Linked DNA regions of Homo sapiens: region 2 is linked to region 1. A link means that fine-mapping ties the variant in region 1 to the expression of a gene that starts in the linked region. Tissue or cell type: subcutaneous fat. Region 1 holds a variant in brackets; the other region holds the start of a gene. All regions are shown on one strand. Distances are from middle to middle.

Region 1 (8,181 bases):
CCAGGCAGAGGGCCCCAGTGCACAGGCCCGGGGTGGGACTAGCTTGCTGTGTTGGAAGACCAGGAAGTTGGCAGGAATACAGAGAGCAGGGATGGTGGCAGCACAAAGGAAGTGACAGAGAACGGGGGGCGGTGGGGGGGTCTTCCTGGCTGCATTTGGTTCCTGTGGTTTCTGTAACGCAGTACCAAAAACTGAGTGGCTTAAAACATCAGAAAGGGATTCTCTCCCGGTTCTGGAGACCAGAAGTCTAGATCAAGGTGTTAGCAGGGTGGGTTCCTTCTGGAGGCTTTGAGGGAGAAACCATCCCAGGCCACTCTCCTGGCTTCTGCTGGTGGTTGGTGATCCTTGGTGTTCCTCGGCTTGTACCTGCATCACTCCAGTCTGTGCGTCTGTCTTCACATGGCCTTCTCTTCTCTGTGTGTCTGTGTCCAGATTTCCCTCTTCTTACAAGGACAGCGGTCATTGGATTTAGGACCCATCCTACTCCAGTATGACCTCATCTTACCTGATTACATCTGCAAAGACCCTATTTCCAAATAAGGTTACAGTCACAGGTTCCAGGGGACATGAATTTTGGGGGGACACTATTCAACCCAGTATGCTGTCCTTATCCTGAGCTGGAGTCACTGAACCCCCAGCCTGGGCCACCTCTTGGCCGTGATCCTGAAGGGTTGGGTCAGTTAGACGCCACTGGAAGCATGTTCTTTGAGGCCTCCAAGCTCTAGGGCAGCCAAGAAGACCACGAGCGCTGTTTCTCTTCTTGCTCAAAGGGTGGAGGTGGTGGAAGAGGACGGGCCTTCTGAGAAGAGCCAGGACCCACCTGCTCTGGCAAGATCCACTCCTGGCTCAAACAGGTAATCCATTGCGCTCATCTCTGCCTGGGGCTGGTGGCTGCCATACCTGCCACTCAGTCACTGAGGAACCTCAGTCAGGGCACCTCCATGCTGGGCTTCGAGATCAGTGTCCCCATGTGCCCAGTGACAAGACGGGACAAAGAAATCAGTAAGAGCCCATCTGGCTGGATGTCCCAGGGCTGAAAGGAGCAAAACAGTCCAGCCCCCCGGGAGAGAGCACCTGGCTCTGGTCTGATGAGTACGTATCTGTGTCACCTTAACCCTTGCACCACTGAGCCTGGTGGCAACTTGAACACCCCAAGAAAAAGTACCATCCTTGGGGTTTGAGAGGGCCAGCCACCATGGCAGTAGCATGCCATTGTCAGACTTGCTCCTTGCACTCCAATAAGTTAGCCACATTCAGCATGCCCAGGGAGGAGGCTCTGACATCTCCAGAGCCTCTCACAGCCACCTTCTTTGCCAGTGCGGATGGAGGCAGGACCAAAGCGTCTCGGGCAATTTGGATCGAGTGCCTGCCAAGTATGCCTAGCCCCGCTGGGAGCCAGGAGCTCAGGTGGGTGCCGAGAGCTGACTCTGGCTTGTGAGTGGGTGTGATGGCTTCCCGCCAGCCTGGCTGGCTGGTTCTGCCAGCTGGGGAGGGTCTGGCAGTGGGGTGATGGGGCAAGGACAGGCTGAGCACTGGTGATCTCACTCCAGGAAGGGCCGTGATTTGTCTTGATTTCTGATCCCTGAGAATCTGGGCAGATAATGGTGCTCTCTTGTCTGTGGACAACTAATACCTTCTTGTACTTTGTGCAGAATGGTGCTAAGTCCTGCAGGGAGAGCCACCACCTGCTGTTGCTGCTGTTTAAAGTGCCTGCCTGGATTGAGACCTTTGCTCAAATCTAGGTCTCCTAAGAGCTGCATCTCTGTAGCACCCTTGGAAGACCCCTGCATCCAGAAGGGGAGAGGGCCTGTCCCTACCGGTCACTTCCCAGGCCCCCAAGGGCTGTTCAGGCTCTCCTAATACCATAGCAATCCCCCAATTTGAGCTCCACAGCCATTTATAGACAGGTGACCACTGTCCTCAGGGTTACTTCCTCAGTCTGGGAGGGAGACAGAAATGCTGGCAGAGGGAGCCAGGAGCATGAGGCCAGCTCCCTCCATGGCCCCAGGCAGCAGACTGCCAGGGTGCTTCTCCTTTTCACTCTCTCCCTCTCTTGATCTTCTCTGGTTGTCTGACTCTCCCCATAAGAACTTTGGTCCATAGAAGATGTGGAAAGGAAGATTTGAGAATTCTTTACAAGGCAATATCTAGGGCAGAGCTCCCCAGTCTTTTTGGCACCAGGGATTGGTTTCGTGAAAGACACTTTTTCCACGGGACGGAGCAGGGGATGGTTTCAGGATGAAACTGTTCCACCTTAGATCATCAAGCACCGGATTCTCATAAGGAGCGCACAATCTAGATCTCTCACATGTGCAGTTCACAATACGGTTCGCGCTCTCATGAGAATCTGCTGATCTGACAGGAGGCGGAGCTAAGGCAGTAATGATCTCTAGCTTACCTCCTACTGTGCAGCCTGATTCCCAGCAGACCACAGACTGGTACTGATCCTCAGGCTGGGGTTGGGGACCCCTGATCTAGGGGACTTGGCAATTGAGGGATATGGGGGCAAAGGCTGCCACAACAAAGTATTGTACCACACCCTGGGGCGCTTAAACCACAGAAACGTATCATCTCCCACTTCTGGAGGCTAGAAGTGTGAGATCAAGGTGACGGCAAGGTTGGTTCCTCTTGAGTCTCTCTCCTTGGCTGGTAGACTCCATCTTCTCCCTGGGCCCTTATATGCTCATCCCTGTCTGTGTGTGCCTGCGTCCTAATCACTTCTGTTTTTTTGAGACAGAGTCTCACTCCGTCGCCCAGGCTGGAGTGCAGTGGCACAGTCACCACTCACTGCAGCCTCGACCTTCCAGGCTCAAGAGAGCCTCCAGCCTTAGCCTCCTGAGTAGCTGGGGCTACAGTCACAGGCCACCATACCCAGCTAGTTTTTTTTTTTTAAATTTTTGTAGAGACAGGGTTTCACCATGTTGCCCAGGCTGGTCTGGAACTCTAGGACTCAAATGATCCTCCTGCCTTAGCCTCCCAAAGTGCTGGGATTGCAGGCATGAGCCACCGCGCCCAGACCCTAATCACTTCTTATAAGGACATTGGTCCAACTGGATTAGGGCCCACCCTAACAACTGTATTTTAACTTAGTCACTTCTTTAAAGGCCCCATCTCCAAATGCAGTAACATTCTGAGGTCATGGGGGAGTTAAGACCTCAACATATGAATTTTGGGTGGCACAAGTCAGCCCATAACAGTATACAGTTCTCATTTCTCCTTATTTCTCTTTTAAAGAAAGGCAATAAATGGTTTCAGGTGCCTTTCTGTTTGTTCGTTTGTTTGTTTTGTTTGTTTTTGAGATGGAGTCTCGCTCTGTCGCCCAGGCTCTGTCGAGTACAGTGGTGTGATCTCGGCTCACCGCAGCCTCCGCCTCCCGGGTTCAAGCGATTCTTCTGCCTCAGCCTCCCGAGTAGCTGGGATTACAGGTGCACGCGACCACGCCCGGCTAATTTTTGTATTTTTAGTAGAGACGGGTTTCACCATATTGGCCAGGCTGGTCTCAAACTGCTGACCTTGTGATCTGCCCACCTCAGGCTCCCAAAGTGCTGGGATTACAGGCGTGAGCCACCGCGCTTGGCCTCAGGTGCCTTTTAGAAGATAATATAGGAGGCTGGGCATGGTGGCTCATGCCCGTAATCCCAGCACTTTGGGAGGCCAAGGCAGGAGGATGGCTTGAAGCCAGGAGTTTGAGACCAACCTAGGTAACATAGCAAGACCCCATCTCTACAAAAAAATAAAAAATAAAAATTAAAAATTAGTTGGGAGCATTGATGTACACCTGTAGTCCCAGCTACTTGGGAGGCTGAGGTG[G/A]GAGGACTGCCTGAGCCCAGGAGTTTGAGGCTGCAATGAGCTGTGACCGCACCCTTACACTCTAGCCTGGGTGACAGAGCAAGACCCTGTCTCTAAAACAAGAAAAAAAAGAGAGAAAGAATGGAGGAGAATTAGATTGTGCTGTATTATAGATTTAAAAGGCACTTTGACATTTATTCCACAAAATTCCTTTCGATGTTTAATCCCCATCATATGGTTGTCATTGCAAGGTGGCTTTTTAAGTTTGCTCAGGTTGCCATAACAAATAAAGGCTAGAGATTCAGGGTCCGGGGCAAGCTCCCAACAGGAGGCTCAGCTTGATGCTTCTGATAGTTCTTTCCTCCAATTCTGGTCACTCAATATTTGGAGCTCACCCAGGCAGCTTCCAGGAAAGCTGCTGGCTGATCCTGACCCTGGAGGGCCGTCTTCTCTGACCCTACCACGTTAGGTGCTGCACTGGACCAAGCAGCCACCATCAGTACTCCCAGGCCCAGCTCCTATCTGCCTGGTGTCTGAGAAGCCCAGCCCGTGAGGAACAATGACTCAATCAAACTCAGGGTCCTGCAGCACTTCAGAAAAGGCTGGTTTGTGGCAGAGTGGAAGAGGAGAATGTCACAGCCTTGTCCCCAGGCACAGACCTATCGAGGCTACCCTCTCCCCACCCCCTGCCCTGCCCTGTTTCCCTTAGCTACAGTGCAAAGGTCAGCTCCTCATAACTCTTGCCCCCCTTGCAACCTGAACCCAGTTTAGGGACCCTCTCTTGGAGAAACTGGTTCTACACATGCACCCCTTCTCGGCCCCCAGGCCTGGCTGCTTTACCCGAAGCACTGGTCAAGCTTGCCTCACCTGACCAGGGCATGGCCTCCTGGGTCCCGGTCCTAGGCTCTGCCCAGCATGCTGCCTGGCAGAGCGTCTGGGGAGCAGGGAGTAGGAGCACAGCTTCTGGCACAGGACAAAACCCTGGCTTTGCATCAGACTGACTGTGTGACCTTGAGCAAGTCTCTTCATCTCTCCATGCATCAGTTTCCCCGTGGATAAAATAGGGAGAGCAGTAATAGCTACTTCCCAAGGCTGTCCCAAATGCTAAATGAGATCGTGCACCTGAAGTACTTACCACAGTGCCTGGGTGCTGGTATCCTCGGGGGCTCCCAGTCATAGGCGTGCTGAGCTGCAGGGCCCTTATTCAAATACAGGAAGAGATCAATATCTCCACCTGCTGGCATTTGAGGGAAATGTGGCCAAAGGCAGTGAAAAGGAGGTATCCCCTCGCCCCACATCCCCGCCTCCTCGCTCTTTGGCAGAATGAGTCACACACTGTTTGGCACAGGCCACAGTTGGTCGCATTCCCACAGGTGGCTGTGATCAGTTTTGGGCTTCAGGCTTCAGCAGATGCCTGCCTCTCTTCCTTGGGTGCCTTCCAAGGGTGTGCAGCCTTCCAGCGTGGTCCTGGACTTCAGCTTGGACTGGAGCTGTCTGTGGTTGAGAGTCTGGGGAGATGGTGGGGTAGCGGGTTGTGGGGGAGGAGAGACCCTTGTATTAGTTTACTGGAGCTGCTGTAACAAGGTACCAGAAACTGAGTGGCTTAAAACCACACGCATTTATCCTCTCACAATTCTGGAGGCTGGAAGTCTGAGATCAAGGTGTCGGAAGGGCCATGCTCCCTCCAAAGGCTCTGGGGGAAAATCTGTTCCATACCTTTCTCTTACCTTTTGTTGCCTGCAATCCTTGGTGTTTCCTGGCTTGCGCCCGCCTCACTCCCATCTCGGCCTCTGTCTTCGCGCAGCCGTCTTCCCTCTGTGTCTGCCCACATTGCCCTAGTCTGACATCAGTCACTGGAGCAGGCTGGGGTGACACTTTGTTCCCATTTCCTCTGTGACAGAGCCAGAAACGCCAGTGAGAAAATATGTTGTGCTTGCCTGTGACATCCCTGTTCCCTGGCACCACCTGATTTAAATGAGGCAGCCAGGGGTTTTATACTGTCATCATAAATGACATCATCCTCAACAACGATGTCATCGTCGTTATCACGAGAGGAGATGGGGAGAAGTCAGAGCTGTCTGTGTGTCTAGGGCCCCTCCTGGCTTTCATGATGGGAGAGGCCTTGTCCTTGGTAGCCCTTCCATTTCCCTCTGGTCACTTTGAGCACTCCAGGCCCTGGCCAGGGTGGAAGTGGAGGGACAGAGATGAGCAGCCCGCTGACCCAGCCCTCCATGGCTCATTCCTTGCTTTCACCTTGGCCACTCCATCCCCTACCCCTCCTGGGACCCCTGAGTGGCCTCTTTAAAGTGCCAGTCTGAACCTATAAACCCCCCACCTCCACTTCAAGCCCATCCTGCATCTTCCCTTTGCCATACCAGATCTAGTCTGTACATTCAGGACCCCTGCCAGCCTCTACCTCCTCCTCCTCCCCCGATCTCCCTTCAGCTGGCCTGGGTCGGGCTATGCCTCCATGAAGCTTGTCCACTGCTCCCATGGCTAAACCTGTTCTGGGCCCTGCAGCACAGCAAGGTCAGTTTCCATGCCTCTCTGCCCCTGCCTGACCCTGCTGGGCCCAGAGCTTCACCAGGGCAGGCCTGGGGCTCAGGCTTGTCTGCACTTCCAGGGCCCAGGGACAAAGGCAGGAGTGACTGCAATGTGGCTTGGAATTAGGCTTTGCTCCATGGACCTAAGGAGGTCTGGTTTGGGGTGAAGGGTCCACCCCCAGAAAGCCTGGGAGCTCTATATTCTCTCTGGCCCTGGCCACACCATGGCCAAGCCTGCTGGGCGTCATGCCTTGCAGTACGGCCAGAGAATGCATCAGACTTGGAGGGATGTGTGTCCGGGGTGGCCTGTGGTCATCTGGGGGAGGGCTCTGAGCGTGGCTGGCAAGAGGAAAGCTCAAAGGGGCCCTTTGTCCTCATCCCCGAGTCTGCGACATCCCCTCCCACTGGTTTTCATTCCATATTTGGTCTGTGGGTTTTCTCAGTCTCTCGTACCCCTCAGTCCCCACCAGTCCATGAATGCAGAACTACCCCTGGCCTCACAAATGGCCACTTTGGATACCCTGGTGGGGTCACAGGCTGCGGTTGCCCCTGCAAATGGTTGGTAGAAGCACGGGTTGGGAGGTTTCATTTCTACCCAGAAGGGCCCTTGCTGTGCCTGAGGGAGGGCTGGGCTCAGGTCAGGGGTGGGAGACCGGGGAAGGGGCCTACAGGTCAGTGGCCCGAGCTCAGCTGCAGCACCAACAAGGCTCAAGGCCAAGGAGGAGATGAGAGCACATCAAAAGGGGGCAGTGGGTCTGGGCGGCCCACCGCACTCACCAGCCCAAGAAGGGGGAGACTTTTCTCACCTGCAACCCACTGGGTCTCTCCTTTGGCCCGCAGCTCAAGAGGTGAGGAAATTGTCCGCCTGCAGATCCTGACACCCAGGGCAGGACTCCGCCTGGTGGCCCCAGACGTGGAAGGCATGAGGTATGGGGGTCCTGCTGCTGTCCTGGCTCCCTGGACACCATTCTAGAGATGGAAGCAGCAGCCTCAGGTGGCAAATGATGAGGCCTAGGGCCGGCTCTGCCACTGTAGGGCCAACAGGTTGATGGGAGGCATGGTCGACCTGGGTTTTCTGCCCCATCTCATTCTTTCACTCAGAAAACCATTATGGAGCAAGCGCTTAGTCTGTGTAAGGGCACAGGCCCGACCCTGGGACACAGTAGTGAACAGGACCCCCTGGCTGGAATTGCCATCTGCCTGGTGGGGGAGGCAGACGCCGACATGAGCATGAATGAGGTCAGCCAGAGATGCTGTGTGCCAGGAGCCCCTGGGAAGTGACAGCTCAACCCTGCCAATTGCTGAAGATGGGACCAGTCAGCCGTGCTGGGGATGTTGGTGGGGGTGGGAGGAGGATTGGGTCTAAGGAGCCCGTGAAGGCCACTGAGGCCATTGCCCTGCCTGTGTGAGAGGGCCACTGGGAATAGAGTGGGGTCACTGGGTCAGAGTCCACAGCTCTCCATGCCACTAGGCTCTGTGCTGGGGAGGGGTGGGTCAAGGAGGCCACAACCAGCAGGGAGCACGAGGGGCTCAGCCTCTGCCCTGGGGTGGGGGTCAGACAGCCAGGTGACATGCAGGCAGGATTCGGGGGCTGGGGTGGAGGCTAGGAGAGATCCGAGCAGGGAGACTGGGCCCCTACCTTGTGAAGGCCAGGGACTGGGGAGAGAAGCGGGAGTGTACACTGAAGGTCATCCCTTAATCCCTGGGGTGGCAGGAACTTCGAGCAGAGGCCTCTCAACAGTGTGGTGGGTGGGAGTGCTTGGGGAGGGCTTCCTGGAGGAATTGACATCCAAGATGAGTCCTGAGCGATCTCTAGGTCCCTTTACCCTCCTCCTTGGCTCCTCCCACT
Region 2 (8,170 bases), 27 kb before region 1:
TAGCTTGGAGTGCAGGCTGAGAACAGGGGGAGAGGAGCAGCCACTCCACATGCTGAGAGGCTGGACCAGCTCCTAGCAGGAGAGCTGGTTACAAACACAAGGGCCTGGCCTCACGGGTTCGGGGCTCAAAGGACCCATCCTACCTGCAATCACACCTGGGGACCCCTGCCTCCAGGGCATCCACCCTGCTTGGAGTCAGCAGAGTCACCCAGCAAGTGTAAACCGGTTGAAGAGCTTAAGAGGATGAGGTGGCAGGGCGGGCCCCGGGAAGGAGGGGATTAGGGATCAAGCAGGAGCCCAGCCCTCCCCGCACATGAACCTGAGCACCCCAGCTTCTCTCCAGCTGGGCAGGGGCTCCATCCAGAGCAGCTGGAACCCCAGGTTCTAAGCCCAGCTCTGCCTCAGACTAGCTGTGTAATCCTGGCAACATCTTGTCCCTCTGTGGGCCTCTGTTTTCCCATTTGTACAACTGAAGTGTTGAGGTTGCCTGCCTGTCTTCAGTCCCCTCTAGCTGAGGACACTGCCTGGGGGAGCTTTGCGGCCTGACAGCTTTCAGGGCCCAACCCCTCTTTCTCCCCCTCTAGCCTGGTAACTCTTTTTGTTTTCTGTATTTTTTGTAGAGACGGGGTCTCACCATATCGCTCAGGCTGGTCTTGAACTCCTGAGCTCAAGCGGTCTTCTCTCCTTGGCCTCCCAAAATGCTGGGATTACAGGCGTGAGCCACTGTGCCCACCTCCTAGCCTGGGAACTCTGGGGCTAGATCACCTTGCTTGAGTTCTCTTCCCAGCCCTGGAGATCAGAATGGGGCCTCCCCTGGAGCTGAGGAGTGCTGCTGGCCAGTTCTTTCCCAGCAGCCACCTGCCGTGCTACCCATCTCATTGCTTAGATGCAGCCTCCCAGAGACGCTGCCTCCACGGCCTGCTTGTGAGCTATGGCTTCTCCAGCACAGGGCTCACCACCTGCTACTCCCTGCCTCTACCTTTCAGCCTCTTGCCTGCCCAGACAGCCCAGCCTGGCCCCACCCTGAAGCCCCTACCTCTCACTTAGAGCCTTGCTGAGGGCCTGCTTGTTGGTGGGAAGAGACTGTCCAGTCCCCTGGAGGTGGCACTGCTGCCTAAGCTGGAGGGACTTCAGGAGAACTCTGCCAGAGCCAGGGGGTGGGAGCTGGCCTGTCTTGGAGCTGCGGATGGGTGGAAAAGTGCAAGAGATGTGAATAGGAAAGGATAGGGCCAAGCTCAGGCCAGGTAGGGACAGAGCCCAGCCTGGAGGCAGGCAGCAGCCACCACAGCCTTGGCCTAGAACTTGAGGGAGGTCTAAGGGAAGGTTCATGAAGGAGATAATGTTACTGCTGAGAGAAAGTGGAGGCCACCTGGTGTCCCTGGGGAGGAAATGTCATTCCAAACAAAGGGAGCATCTTGTGCAGCGTCCTGGTGGTATTTGAGCACTTGGTCTATCTGGGTACATGTCATTTGGGCATGTCTGGTGCTTGAAGAGGCTGAAGAAGCCAGCAGGTGCCTGAAGCCTGGCTGAGGTGACTAGAGGTGCCCTGGCAGGCGTGGAAGTGGAAGACTGTTGGGGCAATGGACAGGTGGGCAGGGCAGGGCAGGGCAGTTACCATTCAAGTCAAACCCGTTTGCAGGCAAGATCAGCTGCAGGGCCTGGCAGCCTGGCAGGGAGGGAGGGGTTCAGGGAAGGCTGATCTCTTTGGCTGGAGCAGTCGTGACAGATCGGGCCTGGGCAGAGACTGAGTCACCTGGGACATGGGAAGAGCTTGAGGCCCTGGGGCGGCCCAGCCTGGGGCAGTCCTCACTTGCTGGCCGTGCCGTTGGACACCACATTTGCTCATGCTCTCCAGCTGGGCCCCCCACCCCTGACTCAGGGCTCTTGAACAAGTTTGCCTTTTCCCTCTTCCTTGCCCTACATCTCACCCATCATGATGTCTTCTACCTTCTACCCTTTCAAACTAGGGGCTCTTGAAGAGGACTGGGACCCAGACAAAGAGTATGACACAGCCTAAGTCATACAGTAAACATGTTTAGGAGGTAAGATGCCAAGCCAAATCCATGGCCACCAGTAGCCACAGTGGAGGAGGGGAGGTGTTAGTTGCTGGCCACCAGACAGGGGCATACAATATTGGAAGCAGAAAAATGCTTGTTGGCAAGAGACGGACATGAACAGAAGTGACTTTATATACAACCCCCTAAGCACACACAGGGTCGCCTTCTCCCTATCTCATGAACCCCAAGAAGAAAAGGATGAGGACAGCTTCCACAGCCTCACTCACCCATCCATCACTTCCTTCTGCAAATTCTTCGGATGCCCTGTGCTGGTCTCCGTGACCCAGTGATGAATCAGAAGGGGCCCTGCCCTCCCAGAGCTCAGGATCTAGAACAATAGAGGGTGACAGCCACTATGCTGGATTGATGTCATCTGAGGGAACTAAGGGGTGCACAGAAGGAAGTGATCAGCTCGACTGGGTGGCAGGCAGGGGAGGCTTTCCGGACACTGGGTGGAGGCTTGAAGAATGACTAAGAGCTCACTAGCCCGACGGGGATGAAGAGCATTTTAGGGAGTCCGAGGAGCAGGAGCAAACACCCCAAGGTGAGCGCCATGTGATGTATTCAGAAGGCAATGGAAAAAGGCCAGTGTGGCTGTAATGTATTGAACAAAGGGAAGAGTGGCTGGACCTGCAGGGATAGGTCGTCTCAAGGAGTCTGGCTTTTACCCTGAGAGCAATGGGAAGCCATGGAGGAGTTGCAAGCAGGAGAGCACCTGATCATATTGACACACGTGAACTTTTAACCTGACCTCCGTGTAGAGACTGAGGGAAAGGAAGGCAAGACCAGAGGCAGGGGGACACCAGCAAGGAGGCTGGTCTTCGGGGCCAGGTCTGGACTAGGGTGGTGGCAGCAGGCACAGGGAGAAGTGGGTGGACTGGAGGGCCATGGAAACACCACATTGGCAGGCCTTGATGAAGGAGAAGCAGCTGGTCCATTCTTTTGAGCCTACCACCCTGGTAGGCCAACTCCTGGCCAAGTCCATGCCATTTCTTGGGCTGGCTTAATTGTCTCCCTGTTTGGGAGGCCGTGGGGTGAGGGGTCTTTCCTCCATGCTCTCTCCATCCTTAGCCCCAGCCCAGGGCCTTGCACACAATAAAGCACTCGGTGAGCACCAACGCGTGACACAGGTACATCAAACCGCATTGGCTCTGGGAGTCTGGCTGTATCTCGTCGCCCAGCCTGGGAGATAGCCCCGTTTGCTGTGCCTTGTGAGCCCCGGGTCCGTCCCAGGATGGCCTTCCACGATGAGCGGCTCCCTCACTCTTCTCCTCCTTTCCTGCCTGCAGGACTTCCTGGATGATCTCAGCCGCCAGCCCCCCGCCCCCCTCCCCGCCCCTGTCTGGGATCTCCATCTGTAAAATGGATCTAGGAACGGTAGTTCTCGACTGAATTAACCCGACAGCATCTGTGGAAGTCGTTGGCCCTGTGCCGGGGCCAGATCGCGCAACTAGGAGCGGGGGCCCTTCACGTGGCGGAGGCTTCCCGGCCTGGGGGCCACGGGCCCGGAGGAATTTGCCTGGAAGTTTTCCATCACGGCAGAGCCTTCTGGAGCTCGCCCCGTGCTCGACAAGGGGAGCCCCAGACTTGATTTCTCCAGCAGCCCCGCGGGGCGGGGCCGAGAAGGGGCGGGCGGGCGGAGGACGCTGGCGGGAGAATGTGCGGAATGTGCCAGGCGCCTCTACCTACCCCAGGAGGGGCAGAGGAAGGGGCCGGCCGAGGGGAGGGGCGAGGGGCGAGGCTCCGGGCGGCCGGAGAAAACCTGTTTGTTCTCCTGCGGGCGGAGCCCAGTCCGCGCCTCCTCGCCTCCCTGCGCGCTCCCCGCTGTGCACCGCGCCCCGCGCCCCGCGCCTGCCTCCCCGGCCCGGCCCGGCCCGGCCGGGCGCCGTCCACCCGAGGGAGCCCGCGCCCTGCGACTGCCCGACCCTCCACCCGCCCCACGAGCCGGGCACCGGTGCCAGGTAGGGCTGTCGAGTCGCCATTGGATGCGGCCCTGCTTGGAGGCAGTGGGGGGCACCCAGTCCGTGCCCAGCTGGGGACAAGTCAGGGCCTCAGTTTCCCCATCCATAACCCTTACCAGCTCCAAGCATCTCTCTTCGGGTTCCCCCCGGGAGTCAGTGGATTTCTGGTTTTCGCTGTGAGTGAAAAGACTGACAGGCAGAGGAGGCCAGCGTCCCCTACAGAGGCAAGTGTCCCCCTTGCCAGCCTGATCCCTCTGTCTTGCCCTTTAGGAAAGACACGGTTTAATTGTTAGTAAACGGCGAGGGGCCAGGATGCTCTGAGAGTTGACTGCAGGCCTTTAAGAATCAGGGAATCTCATATCCCTCCGTCCCCCTGTGCCCATTTTATAGATGAGGAAACTGAGACCCAGAGGCTGGCTCACCCAGAGGATCCCCTCAATCGCCCTGGGGCCTGTGAGGTGCATGTGCTGGGTACAGGGCAATCTTGGGGAGGGCCATGAGGATGGTGGCTGCTCACACTCAGACAGAAGGCGCCGAATCAGGTGTCACTGGGTGTTATCGACAGGATCGGCACTGCACCAGCTCTGTGGCTGGATTGTTTTGATGGGGGCAGAGGGAGCCAAGAGTCTGTCCTCTTTGGAAAGGCAGAGGGATACCTTGCCTTACAAAAAGGCCGAAAGCTCAGGTGCTCCTGCCTGATCTGCCACTTCTGAGCTGGGGACACCTGGGTACTCTGTCGGTTTAAGGGGGTGACACGTCAAGCTGCCTCCCACCCAGGGCTGCTGGGGACTCAGATAAAGTAGGTGGTGGGTGTGTCCCGGCTTTGGGACATCTGAGGCATGGTAGGAGTTGTGTTCTTGCTGAGCCGTCGGCACGAAGCCTTGGCATCATGGGAGGCCCCAAAGCTGTGAGCCCCGAGAGAGGGCCTCTCACACCCCATCCAGCAGTGCTTGAGGCTTCAGTACCTGGACTAAGTCCTGCCTTGGTCTCATGGCCCTTCAGACTTCTGGCTGTCGTACCTGGCTGGGGGCGGGAGGCAGGGGTGCACAGGTTGATAGGCCTGAACAGAGCTGCAGAGGTCCTGCCTTCCCAGGGCCTCCGCTCCTCATCTGAAAAACAAGGGGCAGCTCAGAGGCCAGCAAGTGGCCAAGACACAGATGCACAGATGAGGGGCCAGCCTTCTGGCAGGCCTTGGTGCCTCCGCTGTTCCCCTCATCGCTCCCAGGCCACTTCAGGATGGGAAGGAACAGATCCCTCTCACCTGCCCCTCCTTCCAGCAATTCCCAGCCCCTGGCTGGATGCTGTGCATTCAGCCGTGTGGAGCTGATGGAAGGCACTCAGTGCAGGGCCAGACACGCAGCAGGTGCTCAAGATCTGTTCATTTCCATCCTCTGGACACTCATGACTCAAGCAACAGAGGTGGCCCAGGACCACTTAGGATGTTGCAGCTCCGAGTAGCATGAAAACATTAGGGGTTCCTCAGTCCTGGAGCAGCGAGGCACCCCTGGCTGGGAAGATCAGGGAAGGCTTCCTGGAGGCGAAGGGCTTGGAAGCAGGAGGAGGAGCTCGGCAGCCACCAGGTCAAGGCCCGCACGTCCTTTGGAGCTGCTGGAGTCTAACCTCCCCGTTACTCCTGAAAGATCATAAACCACTTCTTGCTGAGCTCCTGCATATGGGGGCCCACAGAGAAATCAGCTCCATGCCTTGCCCTGAGGAGTGACAGAGAGGCCATCTGTCAGTAAGAAGTTGCCATCTGAATCCAAATGGCAGCAGTGCTTGTCCACCTCACTTCCTGCTCAGCTCAAGTCCAGACTCCAGAAAAAGCCTTTCCCACGTGAGGCCAGTGATGCCAGGGGCAGCCAGCGCCTCAGCTCAGCCTCCCTCAGCCTGACTTGTGCTCCTTGTCTTCCTGCCCAGTGTCCCCAAGGCCTCCTGAGATCTGGCAGGGCAGGGACTCTGGGTCCCTAGCACTGGGCCCAGGACCTGGCCACGATAGGCATCGGCACTTGTTCCCTGAACTGTCTTCAGTTGCATGCCAAGCAAACTCCCCCAATTCTGGCTCGGTGCATTCTGGAAGCCAGAAGCCTGCCTTCCTCCTTCCCTACTCAAGCTTCCACAGGTGACTGCCCCCTTTGGTGCGGGTTTTGCTTCAAGCCACAACTTATAAGGTGCCAGGTCACATGTAACACAAGCTTTCCTTCTGTTGCTGAGCCCTGAGGCTGCCCCCACTGCCAGTCCCTGGCGGCATGGGACAGGACCAGTGCCAGAGAGGAGAGCTGCTCTCCAGTGCGGCAACCCCTTGCAGTCCGGGCCTTTGGGCTCTCATGTTTAGGGTCAGTCCAGGGACTTTGCATTCGTTACCACTGTGCCCATAGTGAACCGGCTGATGCCAAGACAAGGGCAGTGCCATCAGGGGACCAGTCCCTGAGAGATGCTCAGGAGAGGTTGCCATCATTGCTTCCAAAGGCCGGGAAGAGGAGGAGGGGCTGAACTGTCCCACACCTGGTCAGGTGTGTGGCAGGTGAGGGTGGCACCTTCATAGCCTAGTGGTTAAGAGAATGGCTCAGAGGTCAGCCTGGGTTCAAACCCCAGCTCAGCCACCATCCAGTTGTGCAAAGTTCGGCCCTTCATGCAACCCCTTGAGGCCTCTGTTTTCTCACCAGTACTGAAGGGTGGCTAAAGCCAGGAGCACCTGCTGCACTGGGTGCCTGCAAGTGCTAGGTTCCTGGCACAGAGGTGCTCTGTCACGGAAGGTAGCTGAGCCAGGACTATGGTGCCCTCCTTCAGGGCTGTGGTGGCAAGGAGTGAAGTGGGACTAGGTGGAGAGAGAGATGCTGACTGGGATGTGGGCCCCTACCTGAGGAAAACAGTTTAGAAATTACTGCTGATGATGCAAACAGTATCTACCCACATTTAAAGTGACTCACTAAAGAACACTTAATTCTTAGGGTGATTTCTCATGCCTACTAAAGTCTGACTCGCTTTCTTTTTTGTTTTCACTTTTTTTTTTTTTTTTTGTTAGAGCTGGGGTCTCGCCTTGTCACCCAGGCTGGTGTACAGTGGCTAGTCACAGGCATGATCATAGCACACCGCAGCCTCCAACTCCTGGGCTCAAGCGATCCTCGTGCCTCAGCCTCCCGAGTAGCTGGCACTACAGGCGAGTGCCACCATGCCAGCACTGTTGTTACTTTTTATCTTTAATTTTTTTTTTTTTTACCTTGAATTGATTTAAAACTCATAGAAAAGTTGTACGAATCGTGCAGAGAACTCCTGAAGCCTTATCTGAATTCCCGCTATTAACATTTTGCCACATTTCTCATTAGCTTTCTTCACTTGTAGCCTTTGGATGGGTCAGAGGGTGGGCAGGGCTGTTGTCAGTTCATTTTTCCAAAGGGAAACTGAGGCACAGAGAGGGACTTGCTCAAGTGCCATTGATTAGAAACTGAGCCAGATTAACTTCTCTCAGGGACACATATTGATGCATTTGGCAGGTGTTTTCTTGATCACTTTCTGTGTTGGGCGCTGGGGCACAGAAATGACTGAGAACTGACAGCAAAGTGGGAGGGACAGGTCTGAGTGGAGAAGAGACTGGAAAAGGAAAAGACAAGAGGCCCTGTGGGTATCACTCTCAATGTCGGAGGTGGAATGCAGGAAGGAATCTGCAGCTTAAGCGTGTCTCCCAGGGAATTTGACTGCCGAAGGGTCCCAGAGGCCACTTTCAGAAACACGGTCTAGGCTTTTCCTGTTGGGAGTGTGCTCATTTCTCACCTCAAAAGGGAGCTAGGAACTGGGAGGGTGCCTGCCTGGAGCAGGGAGGTGGGTCCAGGCCAGCCAAGAGAGCAATTCCTCACCCACTCATTAACGCCCGCTGAGCCATCCCTCTTCCCGCAGAGCTGCCCTTGGGGCTGCTGCTGCTGAGATGGCGGCAGAGCTCTGAAGCCACGCCCTGGGTCAGAGAGGAGACATAGCCTCTGGGGCCAGTGGGCAAGCCCTAGGCTGCTGGTGGTTGCTGGCGGTGGTCCCTGGCCTTGGCCCCATCTGTAGGCCCAGCTCGGGCACCCAGTCCGGGCCCCTTGGTCTAGTCCCTGTGATCTTTGGCTCAGCACGCCACTTTGTGATGACTAGGTCAGTTTCCCAGAGAGCTTGATGTGG

Direction of the effects. Positions count from the first base shown, and alleles are read on the strand shown. Sizes are in standard deviations (SD) of each study's normalised expression.
In carriers of allele G in region 1, the expression in subcutaneous fat of the gene that starts at base 3,847 in region 2 tends to be lower than with A alone (small effect, 0.34 SD a copy in GTEx).

What was found. PIP is the estimated chance that this variant, and not a neighbour inherited with it, causes the effect.
Region 2: ZNF185 starts here. The variant in region 1 is fine-mapped to the expression of ZNF185 in subcutaneous fat (GTEx, PIP 0.92).

What each region holds. Positions count from the first base shown.
Region 1 is chrX:152,921,403-152,929,583 of GRCh38, forward strand. ZNF185 (zinc finger protein 185 with LIM domain) reads left to right here. Exons shown (of 25, transcript NM_001395254.1): 11 at 771-854; 12 at 1,318-1,407; 13 at 7,173-7,259. LOC124905237 (a long non-coding RNA gene) reads right to left here and starts at 5,756. Exons shown (of 2, transcript XR_007068368.1): 1 at 5,517-5,756; 2 at 3,947-5,297. The variant G/A (reference allele first, on the strand shown) is at 3,811.
Region 2 is chrX:152,894,221-152,902,390 of GRCh38, forward strand. ZNF185 (zinc finger protein 185 with LIM domain) reads left to right here and starts at 3,847. Exons shown (of 25, transcript NM_001395254.1): 1 at 3,847-4,018. RefSeq lists enhancers at 3,099-3,599, 7,468-7,990.